Linked DNA regions of Homo sapiens. The protein of the gene in region 2 interacts with the protein of the main gene of each other region in a biochemical or structural test. Each region holds a gene or a part of one and is shown on either strand. Other genes may lie near its edges.

Evidence for each region. Proteins that work in one complex are often made in the same cells at the same time.
Region 1: of the proteins of IFIH1 (region 2) and TRIM40, one has a biochemical effect on the other in vitro, tested with the Homo sapiens proteins (one study listed by BioGRID).

What each region holds. Positions count from the first base shown.
Region 1 is NC_000006.12:30,145,695-30,151,255, forward strand, and holds the end of TRIM40 (E3 ubiquitin ligase TRIM40), read left to right. Parts: intron 1-299; coding exon 300-395; intron 396-1,290; coding exon 1,291-1,515; intron 1,516-1,825; coding exon 1,826-1,848; intron 1,849-2,030; coding exon 2,031-2,118; 3' UTR 2,119-3,034; downstream 3,035-5,561. UniProt on the Homo sapiens protein: E3 ubiquitin-protein ligase that plays a role in the limitation of the innate immune response. Mediates inhibition of the RLR signaling pathway by ubiquitinating RIGI and IFIH1 receptors, leading to their proteasomal degradation.
Region 2 is NC_000002.12:162,306,522-162,317,148, forward strand, and holds part of IFIH1 (interferon-induced helicase C domain-containing protein 1), read right to left. Parts: intron 4,413-10,627; coding exon 4,244-4,412; intron 4,063-4,243; exon of another isoform or gene 2,386-4,062; intron 335-2,385; coding exon 188-334; intron 1-187.

The DNA.
Region 1 (5,561 bases), on a different chromosome or scaffold from region 2:
TATGTTGAGAGAAAGCACCCTGAAGTCAAGTAGAAATGGTTCTGTTGCTATCTATTATTTTTTCTGTACTTCTAAGACTGTAAAAAAATTACCCATTACTATTTCCCCCCATCATTATCCAATAAATAAACTCTCAAGTCCCTTACTCCAACCATGATGCTCTAAAAGCATTTCTTTTTAGGCAGAATTTTACATTAGTTGCATTCTGGGATCAGGCCCCCTACCGTGTTCCATTGACTCCTCCCAGTGGGTGCCCCCCTCACTCCCAGTCTGACAAGCAGGTGTGTCTGTCTCTTTAGGAACGACTCAATCGCCGGAGCAGGAAGCTCAGAAAGGACATTGCAGAACTTCAGCGGCTCAAGGCTCAGCAGGAGAAGAAACTGCAGGCTCTGCAGGTGGGTTTTTCGGGTTCCTGGGAAGGACTCCCTGGAGTGTTCTCAGGAGCCCTTACTTAACTATTCTGGACATCTGTCTGTCCCTGGAACAGCCTGATGTGGGCAGATGGTCGTGGAGGCTGAAAACCCGGGTGTTGGCCTTGGCGTCAAAGTTTGCTGGTTGAGTGACCTACGCAAGTTAAGCCCTCTGATCTTTATGTGACTTACATGTTAAATGAGAACCAGTCCTGCTCTGCCTGGATCACAGTAGGGATCAAAGGAGACCAGTGTCTCGTCAACTGAAAATTACTACACAAGCCATAGGCCTCTGTTTCTTTTTATTTTATTTTATTTTTTTTTTGAGATGGAGCCTTGCTCTGTCGCCCAGGCTGGAGTGCAGTGGCACGAACTCCGCTCACTGCAAGCTCCGCCTCCCGGGTTCACGCCATTCTCCTGCCTCAGCCTCCCGAGTACTGGGACTACAGGCACTTGCCACCACGCCCAGCTAATTTTTTCTATATTTTAGTAGAGATGGGGTTTCACCATGTTAGCCAGGATGGTCTCGATCTCCTGACCTCGTGATCCGCCCGCCTTGGCCTCCCAAAGTGCTGGGATTACAGGTGTGAGCCACCGTGCCCGGCCGCCATAGGCCTCCATTTCTGTCTCTGACAGTCTACCTTTCTATTCCTCTTGGTCACATGGCATCTGTAGATATTCAGAGAGTGAGGTGGAAAGGTGAGGTGTCCCTGCCTTTATGAGAATCAAAGCTGCTTCTGCTATACCTGTGACACACAGAGGCAACACCATGAGGGCAAGAGGACTGAGGAATCAGCATTCCTGCTCAGACATTCAGAGACTGTGAAGGGCCAGGAGGGAGCCACCTGACACTGAGTCTTAGGGAGCCCCTTTCCTGTAGTTTCAGGTAGACCACGGGAACCACAGGCTGGAGGCTGGGCCGGAGAGCCAGCACCAAACCAGGGAACAGCTGGGTGCCCTCCCTCAGCAGTGGCTGGGCCAGCTGGAGCACATGCCAGCAGAAGCGGCCAGAATCCTTGACATCTCCAGGGCAGTAACACAGCTCAGAAGCCTGGTCATTGATCTGGAAAGGACGGCCAAGGAATTAGACACCAACACACTGAAGGTGCATACCCTGAGGCCTTCCCCAAGGGCTGGGATTCTCCCCGATAGGAGGCAGCCCATCTGCATCACCCTTCTGGGAGGTGTAAGAGGGAGGGGCCTGTGTGATATGTGGTGACTTGTGGTAGATGTGGCTTGTTCCAGGCTACAGAGTGCTGCTGCAGCAGAATGGGCACAGAAGAGGGGTGTTGCTATGTTCCCCCAGTTCTCAAGGTGGCACCCCAGAGTGGCCTCCAAGAGTGAATTGGGAAAGGAATTTGGAGGTGATAGGAACCTGAGAACCAATTATGATTCTCACTTTTTCTCTCTCCTAGAATGCTGGTGACTTACTGAACAGGTACGAGCTGTCCCTTCTTCTTTCCCACATGTGCATATAAACCCACACAACACAGACATGCACAGAGGTCAAGGAGACCCACTGCTCCGTTAGCTTTTGTATCTTGATGCTACATGGCCAATGGAAGAGCCAATGGAATATATGAATACATATTAATCTATGAAAGATTTCTTTGTTTCTAGGAGTGCTCCACAGAAATTAGAGGTTATTTATCCCCAGTTGGAGAAAGGAGTCAGTGAATTGCTTCTTCAGCCCCCTCAGAAGCTCTGACCTGTTCATCCCTGGGACACCTCACTTCAGGCTCACCTCAGCCTCCTCTCTCTCCTTCCTCCAACCTGTCCAGGCCCCCACTGGGTCTACCCAGTGCATCTTCGGGCCTGCCAGCTCCTGAACATGTCACCATTTCTTCATGTCCACAGTCATCACCTGATGCCTGACCCTCTGACTCTTGGACGATAGCCAGCCTCCTTCCAGGACAGGCTCATGCTTGGGGCTGCCACTGTGGAGGTCGGGGCCCATGGTCTCCAGGAGCATTTGTGAAATCTCCATTTTGCCTGTAAACTGATGGTAGTGCCCATCTCTCACAATCTCATTCAAATAGGATCCTCCAGGCCTCTGAATGGCCCGAGCTCATCAGCAGTGACACCACCTCACATGTGGAGCCCAGCTGAGTTCCTGCAGTACTTGTTGTCTGTACCACTCACCTGGCACTTATTTATTATTGTTGTGGAAGACAGACTCAAAGACAGCCTCCCTTCATGATCCTCACCTCTTGGAATTCATGCCCTTGTTTGGTCCCCTCCCCTTGAGTGTAAGTGGGATCTGTGACTTGCTTCTAATGAATGGAATAAGGCAAAGGTGATAGGGTGTCACTCTGGCAACTGTGTTGCATTGTATAGAACTCCTCCTTGCTGGCCCACCCTTTTAGAGCCCCTCCTAGGAGCCAAGAGCAGCTTCCAGCCAACAACAAGCAGAGGCCCTCAGTCTTGTGGCTGCAAGAACCTGAATTCTGCCAACAACCCGAGTGAGCTTGGAAGCAGATTCTTCCCCAACTGAGCCGGATAAGAACCTAGTCCAGCCAACACCTTGATTATAGTCTTGTGAGTACCTAAGCTGAGGACCCAGTGAAGCTGTGCCAAAATTTCCCACCCACAGAAACAGTGTGACAATAAATGTGTGTGTGTTTTTTTGTTTTCTGTTTTCGTTTTTGAGATGGAGTCTCACTCTGTTGCCCAGGCTGGAATGCGGTGGTGTGATGTCGGCTCACTGTAACCTCTGTCTCCTAGGTTCAAGCAATTCTCCTGCCTCAGCCTCCCTAATAGCTAGGGATTATAGGCGCCCGCCACCACACCCGGCTAATTTTTTGTGTTTTTAGTAGAGACAGGGTTTAACCATGTTGGCCAGGCTGGCCTTGAACTTCTGACCTCAGGTGATCAGCCCACCTTGGCCTCCCAAAATGCTGGGATTACAGGTGTGAGCCACCGCGCCTGGCCATGTGTTGTTATAAGGCAGTAAATTTGTGGTAATTTTTGTGGAGTAATGGATAATGAATACAATTGTATATTAGTCATTTTTGTATAAGCCTCACTTCTTTGGGTGAGCAGGGATCATATTCTGTCTGTGTCCTCATGTCTAGAACAGTGTCTGGCTCATAGCTGGTGTCCAGTAAAATTTTAAATGTATGTATAAGTGAACTAATAAGAAAGCATAAGGAAGGGCTCTTCTCAATCCTCTGATTAAAAAGAGCCATCAATTACCTTATAATCAGTATTTATTGAGCCTTTGCCAAAGTAGTCAATACCATACTGAGAGGTATAAGGAATAAAACATGGCCACAATTATAAAACAAGCCACGTGGTGGTGCAAAGAGTGAAAACTACAGGGTCAGACTTGAGTTTAGGTCTCGGTCCTGACACCTAATGCCTCTGTAACCTTGGGCAAATTACTTAGCCTCTCTGAACCTCTGTACTCCCCCCTCTAAAATAAGGGTTATGGTACCTGTGGCCTGGGATTGTTGTCAAAATTAAATACATGCTGAGTGTCTGCTAAAGTGTCTAAAACGTAAACATTCAAATATGTTCATTTTATCTTTTTTTTTTTTTTGGTGTATTCTGGCTTTATTGTTATTTTTTTTTAATTATACTTTAAGTTCTAGGGTACATGTGCACAATGTGCAGGTTTGTTACATATGTATACATGTGCCATGTTGGTGTGCTGCACCCATTAACTTGTCATTTACATTGGGTATTTCTCCTAATGCTATCCCTCCCCCCTCCCCCCACCCCAAAACAGGCCCTGGTGTGTGATGTTCCCCACCCTGTGTCCAAGTGATCTCATTGTTCAATTCCCACCAATGAGTGAGAACATGCGGTGTTTGGTTTTCTGTCCTTGCGATAGTTTGCTGAGAATGATGGTTTCCAGCTTCAACCATGTCCCTAAAAAGGACATGAACTCATCCTTTTTCATTTCATCTTTTTTTAAAAAAACCACTTCCCCTTTTGAAATGAAATATGGAATGATAAAAAAATTTTAAATAAATTCCACTTCACCATCCAGAAGTTTATAATTTAGCTGTGGAACTATGACTAAACAGCTACAGAATAAGAAGAGAGCGTGTAACTGCACTGAATTAGGTATCACAGAGGCTAAGTGCCCTGGGAATTCAGAGGAAAGAAACAGCGAGCCTGGGAAAGTCAGGGTAGGTTTTGTGGGGGAGGTGGGGATTGGACAAGTGGGAGAGGAAGGTGAGAACATTCTAGGTCACAATAACCACATGAATGAAAGCATAGAGGTAGGAAAAAGCCACGGTACCTTTGTAGGAGTGTGAGGAAACCAACCTGGTTAGGCTGGAATGTTCAGGAATGGGGAAGACGAGAAGTCAACAGGCTAAATGGATGACACCAAGACATAGTGAGGTTTCTGAGTCAGGAATGAAGGGAGAAGTGGTGTTTAATGAAAGCCAGTCTGGATCGTTTGCACAAGAAGGACTGGGACAGAGAGTTGGGGGCTGGAAGGAGAGGGGAGGAGAAAGAGCCTAGTGCAGATGTTCAGAAAAAAGGTATAGTTATTTGGCAAGAAGCTGCAGATCTCAGAGAAACATAAGATCCCAAATCTAAGAGCAAGACATTAGCCAAGGAAAGAACACCCCTGAAAGTGACAGCTAGCAATTTCTGCATCCCAGATGGAGTTAATGTCACCAAGAGAACTTGTACTAGGAGTAGGAGGAGACTGACAGCCCCCAGGGTCTCTCCTCAGGAGAGAATTCAGTTATACTGAAGATGCCTTCCAGGCCCCCCTTGGTCCCTTCTGACGTCACCACAGATGATCAGGCCAGGGGTGGGAGTCTGAACAGCAGATAATTGGCCAAACAAGTCTATGAGGTCACCTGTCAAGGAAGACCTTATCAAAGAGGGACAATAGTAATTAACTGAAACCATCAGGTCCTCTCGGAGATTCAGAAGGGATCCATGATGAATGTGTCATTAGTTGGCAAGAAGAGCAGACACAGAGAGAATCAGAGATGCATGTGCAGCCACGATGTATTGGAACAGGTGTCCATGACCCATGCTGCTGAGAGGCCGCAGGAATATCCAGTCTTCACGCTTCTTTGGACTTCGAGCCCACTTCTTACCGGTAGGTCCTGGGCATACAACATACCACTGCATAATGGTCATGAGCACAGACTCGGGAGCCAAACCACAAGACTTCAAATG
Region 2 (10,627 bases):
GATTAGTTTTAGAAAGCATTTTGGCCAAGAATTATTTTAATTTAATCTCCTCTAAAAATATTATTTTAATATAAATGTTTACTAACCTTAATGCCCACATTTTCTCCCTCTGATTAATAGGTTCTGCCCAGTTGGTTTTTCTGGAAGTAGTAATTACTGTATTAAAGTACGTATGTGTTTCAAGTACCTGAAACTACAGAAGAATCTGCAAAAGATGATTCTGATGAGTTATTCTCCATGCCCCAGACCTCCTTCTCCAGATTTGGCTGAACTGTGGTTGAAAGAAGTTGCTCTTCCACTTGAGGACCATCAACTTGTGATAAATTCTCAATCTCTGTGAATAACAGTATTAGAATGCAAATCATAGTGCCATACAAGTTTTTGTAGAGCATACATAACTGTTATTGTTATTTTGAAAACAAACTAGAGGTTCCTAATAGAGATTGCCTGAATATATTTAAATACTTTGAAGTTCTGAATAGAATGTAAATTGTATTGCAATGCAAGATTTTATACAATATAAATAGCTGTTATTGTTATTTTGAAAACAAAATGGAGAGCCCGCAATAGAGATTGCTTTAATATATTTTAATATGTTGACATTTCGAAAGGCTTAGAATGTGCTTTTGTTATGGCAAGGTACTTTTAATTTTAATATGGACACAACGAGTAGTTCTTTGTAATGATTAGACTGTAGCTAAAAAAACAATATAAGCATTATGCTAATCACAAGAAAAGTGATTTCCTGTCTGACCGTCATGTTTAGGAAGTAAGTCACTTATTCAGTGACACAAAGTTACATTTAAGGCTGAATTAATGAAAATGCAAATTTGGTAGTTTTCTTTAGCTTTGCTCTTGCCATTTTGTTTCCTCACTGTGTGTTCTGCACGAGACGTACATCTGCTTTAATGTCAGCCTATATTCATGTATTCTGAATTTCTGGGGATTTTTAAAACATTTAATGAAATATTTTGTGCCCCTCTTTTCTTCTTTCCTCCATTCCTCACTTCCAGCTTTTCTTACTTCAACTACATGTAATGGGTATTTTATTAAGGGCTTATGTGGGTTAAAAAGAAAATCAAGAGTTTTTGCCTTTATGAAGCTGCAATCTGTCAGAGAAGACTGATGCCATAAGGAAAATTTTCTAACGTATCATTTTTTATTATCTCATCTTAAAGAACCCAGTGAAAATGTGCCCCACTTTGTATGGAAAATTTCCTAAAGAAAACTGTTGTGACTTTGGACAAGAAGAAAACTTGGCAATGTTTGCAGTTAGATATTAAGTACATTAGGGACTATTATAATAGTTAATTTATTTTGCACTCACAATATAAATACTTTACATACATTAAGTTATTTAAGTCTCAAAATAAACCTAGATGGTAAGTAATATTATTGTCTCCATTTTACTGAGGTGATAAGTAATATTATTATCTCCATTTTACTGAGGAGTAAACTGAGGCATAGAGAAGTCGAGAACCTGGCCAAAGGTCACACATTCAAGGAAGGAGCCTGGATTTGATAAGCATCAGGATCCGATATGTATCAGGACCCAGAGTCTAAGCTCCTACAGTAGTCTGTTTATGCTGCCATAATAAAACACCATCAACTGAGTGGCTGAAACAACAGACACTTCTTTTCTCACAGTTCTGGGCACTGGAAGTCCAAGATCAAGGTGACAGCAGGGTCAATGTCTGATGAGGACTCTCTCCTTGATTTGCAGATGGCCACGTTCTCCCTGCGTCCTCACACGGTTAAGAGAGAGAAAGAGACAGATGTTTCTCTTTTTCTCTTTCTTCCTCTTCTTAAAAGGCCACAATTCTATCAGATTAAGGCCCCATTCTTATGATTCATTTAATCTTTTTTTTTTTTTTTTGAGACGGAGTCTTGCTCTGACACCCAGGCCAGAGTGCAGTGGCATGATCTCGGCTCACTGCAACCTCAGCCTCCTGGTTCAAGTGATTCTTCTGCCTCAGCCTTCCAAGTAGCTGGGATTATAGCTGCATGCCACCACCCCAGCTAATTTTTGTATTCTTAGTAGAGATGCGGTTTCGCCATGTTGGCCAGGCTGGTCTCAAACTCCTGACCTCAGGTGATCCACCCGTCTTGGCCTCCCAAAGTGCTGGGATTACAGGCGTGAGCCACCACGCTTGGCCTGGCTCATTTAATCTTAACTATCTCCTACTATCACTGTCTCCAGATAGAGTCATATTAGGTTCCAACATATGAGTATTAGGAGGACAAAATTCCATCTGTAGCATTTTACCATTGGCTTCCCAAAATTCATATCTTTACTACATACAAAATACATTCATCTCATCTCATCAGCCCAAGTGCCTTAACTCACTGAAGCATGAACTCTAAGTCTAAAGTCAAAAGTCTCACCTAAACATTGTCCAAATCAGACGTAGATGAGACTAGAGGTGTGATTCATGATAAGGCAAATTCATCACCAGCTGTGAACTTGTGAAACCAGTTGAGCTACATGTTTCTTTTCCATAATACAATGGTGGGACAGGCATAGGATGGACGTCTTATTCCAAAAAGGAGATATAGGAAAGAAAGCAAGGGTGATGGGTCCCAAGCAAATCCAAAACTTATTAAGGTAAATTCTGTCACATCTTAAGGCTTATAAGGCTTGAGAATAGCTCTGTTTGGTTTGATGCTCTGCCTTCCAGGTCCACGGAATGGCAGGTTCTAGGGCTCTGCAAGACAGCCTGCTCTCTCTAAGGGCTCCATCCACACAGCTTTCTGTGAGGATAGCTCTGCTTCTGAGACACTAGGCAGGGTCATCCTGAGGGCTCACTAAAACCAGAGAGACAGTTTTGCCCTTTGAAACCAAAAAGGAAACTGCCTTGGCCTCTGGGTCTGTGGTGGAAGTGGCAACCCTGATGACTTCTGTATCACTTTTGGGGGCATTCTTTCCTTTCCCTGAAGAATAGTACACATTCACAGCCAAATAGCTCTATGGTCTGGTTCTGTAGAATCCAGAAAGTCCAGTATCCTTTTCTCATTCTGTCCTGCTTTCTCTGTCTCCTTCAGTTCAAACTGGAAGTGTATTTGCTGGTATAATATATCTCTACTCCTACCTTCTGCTGAAATGGCTGATTAAGTCCATCAGTAGCACCCATGATCTTGTTATCAATTGGTTGTTCTCTTTATAACACAATTTCTCATTTTTTGCCATATGGATAGGCTGAGAATTTTCCAGATATTTAAATTTTGGTTCCTTTTTGCATAACAACTCCTTCAATTAATTTCTCTTCTTTTGCATTTTACTATAAGCAGTTAGGGGAAATCAAGCTGCTCCTTCAGCATTTTGCTAAGAAATTTTCTCAGCCAAATATCCAAATCCATTACTTGTGAGATCAAGTTTTATCCCATTTTATAACAAGGATCACCTTTCTTCCAGTTTCCAATGACATTTTTCTCATTTCTCTCTGTGACCTCACCAGAATCACCCTGAACACCCATATTTCTACCATTCACCCAAAACTCTTACAGTCTCTATCAATTACCCAGTTCCAAAGCCACTTCCACACGTTTAGGTGTTTGTTACAGCAGCACCCCACTTTTTACAGCAAAGTTTTCATTAGTTAGGGTCACCAGAACAAAACTGCAATGATTATAATTAATTAATAGTTAACTTTCAATTTGTCTTTCATATGATATTTTTGGAAACATAGGATGCATACTACGAAAAGAAAAATAAGATAGCAGTTTAAGTGAGATTTACAAATAATGTAGGAGAAGGAGCTATAAAATGTTATGTTATTACTATTATTGAATGCTGTTTAAAATCTCACATTAGGTAAGGTTGAGATATATTGACAAAACAATCCTTTTATCAAATGCTTAATACATTGCTTAAAATGTATAAAAATGTTCAGAAGAATATGCAGCAGATTTTTTATAACCACTAAAATACTTTCTTCCAATGTATTTGTGTATATTTAATGTTACATAATCTTGATAAAATTTCTGGTAGTCATATTGTTTTTAAAATAAGGTAGTAGAAAGAGTGTTGGTTGGATGAAAAATGGTCTTTGATCAGTTGATATTTTCCCAGGCATCAATTTCCTCATTTGTTAAGGTGATAAAATAGATGATCTATCACATATGTTCCACTCTTAAAATTTTGATTCTAAAAATCTTGGTGTTTAGCATTGTGTCTTTCTGCTTTATTGAATTCTCAATCACTAGGCAGAATTTGAAGAATCTTCCTCAGTAAAATTACAAATACCTGCATTGCTTTCTGAGCAATCAGAGCCTGTTAACTCTTGGACAAGTTCATTGTTTCCTGTTTGACGAAGAACATTCAGAAATGCAGAGAACCAGTTTTCTTTCTGCACAATCCTTTTTAGTAGCTCTCTTACACCTGATTCATTTCCATTGTTTTCTGCAGCAGCAATCTGTTGTAAGAGAAAATTAGAATTAAGTAAGATCAAACATCTTCTGAATAACCTTAAACAGGAAATACCCTTTAGAAAAACTGAGCAATTAAGCATAAGTATAAATAAAGGCTTACATTGAAACATTGAAGAAAATAGCAATGTTACCTGTAGCAATTCTGAAGTCGGCAGGGAAAAAAATCTCCGGGACAACAACAACAACAACAACAAAAATCTCTGGACCAAGTGTCCTTTTAAATATGAACCATTTTTTTTAAAAGCTATTGAATTATTCAAACCTGACACCTAGAAAATAAATTTTACCTCAGCCATTCCTGAATAAAGGATAGAAGAGAAAGTATCTTTAGTCTGCAGCCATGTTATGTCTATTTTCACCAATTTCTTTCTGTATATCTAGGGCTGGCTATATTTTTTCAATCTATGGAGTCTGTAAATGGGAAATCAAACATTTCTTATCTCCTTTCTTCATGATTATCATTATGAAATAAGTAATTACTACTGCAGATTTATATTTTTTCCTATGTAATATTTGCATAGTTGATTATTACTATAATCAATTTTTCTCAAATTTGTGTTTTTTTAATGTTATGGGAAATTTATTGTTATATCTTTTTTTTGGAAATATGGGGCAGAATTATTTTTATATCCATTCATTAGAGTCTTTAGCCTTCTTTTATTTTCTCTTTTAGATTAGTAAATTTCTTTTAAATGTGGATCTTTTGTGTAATCATTGTCACAGTGCATTTCCCTAGGTCCTAATATAGCAATAAGGATTTGGAGGAAAGAGTAACTCAAGCCATGTTTAGACATGAAAGAAGTTAGGCAGGACATCATTAGCTTTCTGTGGCATTAGGCAATTTACTTCATCTCCCTAGACCTTGGTTACAATATGTGGTTACAAGGCAGCTGAAAAGAAATTTCAGAGTTTCTATATCTTAGCTGCATGTTAGAAACAACCGTAAAGCCTTAAAAAATACTGATGTCTAGGAAACACCCCTAAAAGATTATGATTTATTTTGTCTATGTTAGGAACTCAGATATTAAAGAAAAAGTAAAACATCTCATGTGATTCTATCAGCCTCCCAGATAAGAAATATTGACTTTGATATTATCAAAGGTCCTTCTCAACATTTGCCAATCTTCCACATGTATCATTTGGATTGTTTAGTTCTTTCCTACAAATTTATGTATTTTCTAGTTCTATAAATATATTCCATAACCTTTTATGTCAGAAATTTGTTAACATTTTTGGAACAATGTCTGGCACTAATTCAGTGTTAGAACTATTATGGATGATTGGGAAGAGTTATTGTTACAAACACCTCACCTGCACAAGCACATACAGCATGGTCTCTACCCAAGGGATATTTCCGTCTTAGCATCTAGTAGTTAAGCATGCTGTTCTAGGGAACTTGAATATATTAACCCAGCAGCCCAGAAATAGGTACCAATATTAACTCATTTACAGATCAGAAATCCGAGGCACAGAGATGTTTAGGTACCTCTCTGAGGTCACAAAGTGAGTAAGTGGCAGAAGTAGAATTTGATCCCAGGCAGTTGAATTTAGAGGCTGAATCCTGCCTTCTTGAACTATAATTATAGCTTATAATTTTCTCCAATTTTAAATTCATTTTCTGGCAAGAAGTGGTTAAAAATAACTATTTGAACTCAGTAAATTTCAAGTGAATTCAGTCCATGTCACCCACAACATTTTCTAAGCAGATTTTTGCTCATTTTTTACCATTTTTTTCTAGCTCTCTTAGTCTCCTAATGGAAATTCTTTGGCTTCCCTGATGTTGTAACATCTTTATTATCATCTGCTAATTTAACAAGTAATTGCTATAGATGTAAATAAGACTGGTTTCAGTGTCTTCTTTTAACTCAGCCATTCTCATATTTTATTACCCCATCCTTTAATCAGCTTTAAATATATTTGACTGAAGCAATCAGGAAGGATTTCCTTAAAAAGAACCAGTGAGGCAACAAATGCTGTTATTAAAAATCCCTAAGCATATTCTATCCACAAAATTTTCTTCAACCACTATTCTATTAAGTCAACTTTTACTGTGGAATCATATTTTTCAAGCTTTCTTTGCCGTTATTGAGTCCAAGCATATAAGGATCATGATGTCATTATTTCCTAAACATATTCTTACAATTTGAATGTGGAACTACATATATCTGTGCAATTTTAGCAGCCTCATCAAGATGCTGAATTTTTAAGAAATCTTCTCAGTTTTGGTGCTGGAAAGTACATCAGCTCCCTTTGAAGCAATTATATAATTTTAAAAATTTAATATGTTCTCCTAAAACATTGTAAAGATATTGATCCCAATATGTAAACACAATTACAGAAATTCGTGGGAGGTGAATATTTACATTTGAGACTGCAACAAGTCATAAAACAATTCTCACCCATGCCCCTCCCCCACTCGAAGTTTTCTCTGTGAAGTTAAAAATGGATGGATGTTTTCACTATGTAGTCTATTAATACATTGTTAACTAATTTATGAAATACGAAATAAAATTAATTTGGTAATAATACAACTCAATGCTTTCATATTCTAAATTCTTTGATATGTTTTTTCTTTCCAACAGAAATCAGTGAAGAAACCAATGACATTTCCATAAAGCACTGGCTTACCAACACAATTGTACAGTTTAATGAAAATGTTTTCTTCCCTTTATAATAACCTTAGATAGCTATTTAAATATAATGGTGATTTTTTTAACCCAGCAGAGTTCAACTCTCAGATAAAAGTAAATCAGGAGGCAAAACCTGTATGTTAAAAAAGAATTTTAAAGAACCAGTTTCCCACAAAAAGTTAATGTCTTAACCCAATGAATATTTATTGTCACATTGACATAGCTAATTTCTTATTCATACTTTTTTTTTTGCAGATGAAATTCTTATCTTTCCTAATTTGCCAGACAATACAATGTTCCTGGGGAGATTGACTTGGGTGCTCAACTTCATGTTGGGAGAACTGGACTGTTCTTAGGTGGACTAGTCATGGCATCTCTGGTTCTTCTGTGTAAATGGAAGGTGTGTGGAGTCTCCAGGACTACAGATGCATTGTGTTCTGAACTGGCCAGGGATGAAACATGCATCTCTCTTTAGCTGTTCAGCTTGATTATTAAGACACTATGGAAATGTTTATATGATCACTTTCGTTCCCAGAGTTCATGACTGCCTAAATTGATGGGTGTGCCAAGTTGTAACTTAGTTATAACTAAGATGTAACAATGCCAAATTGTAACTTAGCATCCTAAAAGAGGAGCAAGGCAGTACAGGGGTACCCCCTTACCATTAAGGATTGCTTTATTATAATGATTGATAAAATGGCATATATTTATTGCTGAAACTCTAGTATTTAGAATAGTCCCTTGTATACAGTAGACATTCTTCTTTCCTTCCTTCCTTTCTTCCTTCCTTCCCTCCCTCCCTCCCTCCCTCCCTCCCTCCTTTCTTTCTTTCTTTCTTTTCTTTCTTTCTTTCTTTCTTTCTTTCTTTCTTTCTTTCTTTCTTTCTTTCTTTCTTTCTTTCTTTCTTTTTCTTTCTCTCTTTCTTATTAGATGGAGTCTCGCTCTGTCACCAGGGTGGAGTGCAGTGGCGCCATCTCAGCTCACTGCAAGCTCCGCCTCCCAGGTTCATGCCATTCTCCTGCCTCAGCCTCCCGAGTAACTGGGACTACAGGCTCCCACCACCACACCCAGCTAATTTTTTTGTATTTTTAGTAGAGACGGAGTTTTACCGTGTTAGCCAGGATGGTCTCCATCTCCTGACCTCGAGAGCCACCCTCCTCGGCCTCCCAAAGTGCTGGGATTACAGGCGTAAGCCACCATGACTGGCCTACAGTAGACATTCTTTTATCAACACTAATTAACACTACAACACAACTTCACGAAAGGACAAAACAGTCTCTGTGTTTTTCTCCTATCTTTTCACCACTAGCATGGCATCCGGCACAAAGATGCCACTCAATAAATTCAAACTGAATGAATGAGTGAATGAATGAATAAGTTTTTGGGTACTTGCTGGACACAAACCTATGTATAAAGTCATTTTCAGAAGGCCTGCTGTAATTACGGGCAGGGGCTAGGAAATGGGGTGGGAATCCTAAATTAAAATAATAGATCAAGTAGAAAATGTCTATGGGGAAACAGAAAAAGAATGAAAATACAAGACCATTTTATAGAAGTCTTGATTACTTAGTTAAATGCTATTTTAAGCCTTCAAAAAAGCAAATTTGGAAATCTTATTTTCATCATTCATCCATTCTCTAACGCCTGGCAACACAATTCAATACGTCATGTGTTTTCAACGCTTATTCCAGACACTTTCAGAAATAAATTCAATTAGTCTATCAATCAAGTAATCAATGCTTACTAAACACCAACCCTCTACCTAATCCTAGTTAGGTTCTGGGATGAAAGAGGTAATTTCTTTTTCAAATCAGTATAATCTAGGGACTTTAAGAAGTATATCTCAATTGCGACATGGGGAATTTACCTCAATCTCTCAAACTTAAATTTACACAGAAATGTAACCAGATGAATGGTTACAAAAGTCAACACCATTATCATATCAAATAGCTCTGATTTATAAGCTTTTTCATAAACACTATTTCTGATTTGATGTTGACTAAAATACTGTGAGAAATTTTATGATGTCCATTTTCACAGGTAAATGTAGCATCAGGGAACTTCAGTAATTTGGCCCAAAGTAACGCATATAGTAAGAAGCCAAGATGGACCTCAAATCCATGTGTTCCCCTTCTACAGTCTTATCACACTTTGCTGCTGTAAGATAAACATTTGTCAATGACCACCACCTCAATATAGATTATTCTACCAAACTTAATGCTTCCGTCTCATTGTCCACCATATCTTAGTTTTGGAACTGATAATACATGTAAATGATGCACACAAAAATTATTCCACACTCTCACAGAGAAACTATTGCTTCCTAGAGAGCCTCAAATTTATAGCTGCTCAGTCTTTTGGGGCCTCCTTTGAAATGTGAATCAGAGGGAGAATTTGGGTTGTTTTGGCCTTAACTGCTACCAGTACACAAAAGTCCCGTTACTCTATATCTTCTTTGTGTCAAATCCCTTGCATTACTGCTAGCTGCCTCCAAGCTTGCCAGAATCAAGAACTTGGATAAAATCTAGCTGGCGGAAATTCAATCCAGGCAAGACAAAAGTGATGCTGATAGGCAGAAGTATTTAGAGTAAATAGGGAGAAGTGCTGTTTCGCTGGCAATCGGGACATCATACCCACCAAACATAAACAGCTTTGTGGTGTTACTGGACTCTGTTGCTTCTGGACTTCTAACAGCTACTGTGGCTGGAAATGCCATCTTCCATCTCCAGCTGGCTTGAAGGCTGCATACTTTCTTCCAAATTAAGATTCTGCCACAGTGATGTACACATTTGTCATATCCAGCTGGACTACTATAATGCGTTCTAGCTGGTTCTCAATACACAAAACGACATAAACATTACAGACAACAGTGCAAAGTAATTTACTTGTTGGGAAAACTGGCCATCAAAATTAGATGCATGTTTGGGTCTTTGGACAGGCCCTGTGTCTGTCAAGTCTACAAAAGATCACTAACTTTATTCACTAAAGACTAAATTGCATCATAGGCTATAGCAAATCAATCAAATGCCCAGAAGTTTGTATGAATATACAAACAATGGATGACCCAAAAGAGAGAGAGAGAAAAAAACCATGTGAAAATCATAGAGTGGTGTAGACAAAGCCTTTGACTTTTAGTCATGGCTTTATTTGTCTACATGTCTTCCAAAACAAGACTTTTGACTTACGAGCCTGAATAAGTCACATTCAAACAGGTCAGCATTTATACACATCACAGTACATCTTCACTTATCAAAAAATAATTCATATCACATTCAATGTAAAGTCATCAGTAAAATTCGCCCTGTCAAAATGCTACCTTAAGAAAAATGAGTTTCTTCACTAACATGAAAAACTGAAACTAGCAACACATTCTTTCAATGAATTGTTTCTAAATTTTGATTCTCAAAGAATGTTGAAACTTTGATTAAAGAAAAAGGGTGTGTGTGTGTGTGTGTGTGTGTGTGTGTGTGTGATTGCAATTTACCCATTTGGGCTAAGACTAAATGGCACAAAGTGTAATGTAGGGCAAAGATTGGAAAACTTTTTCTCTAAAATGCCAGATAATAAAT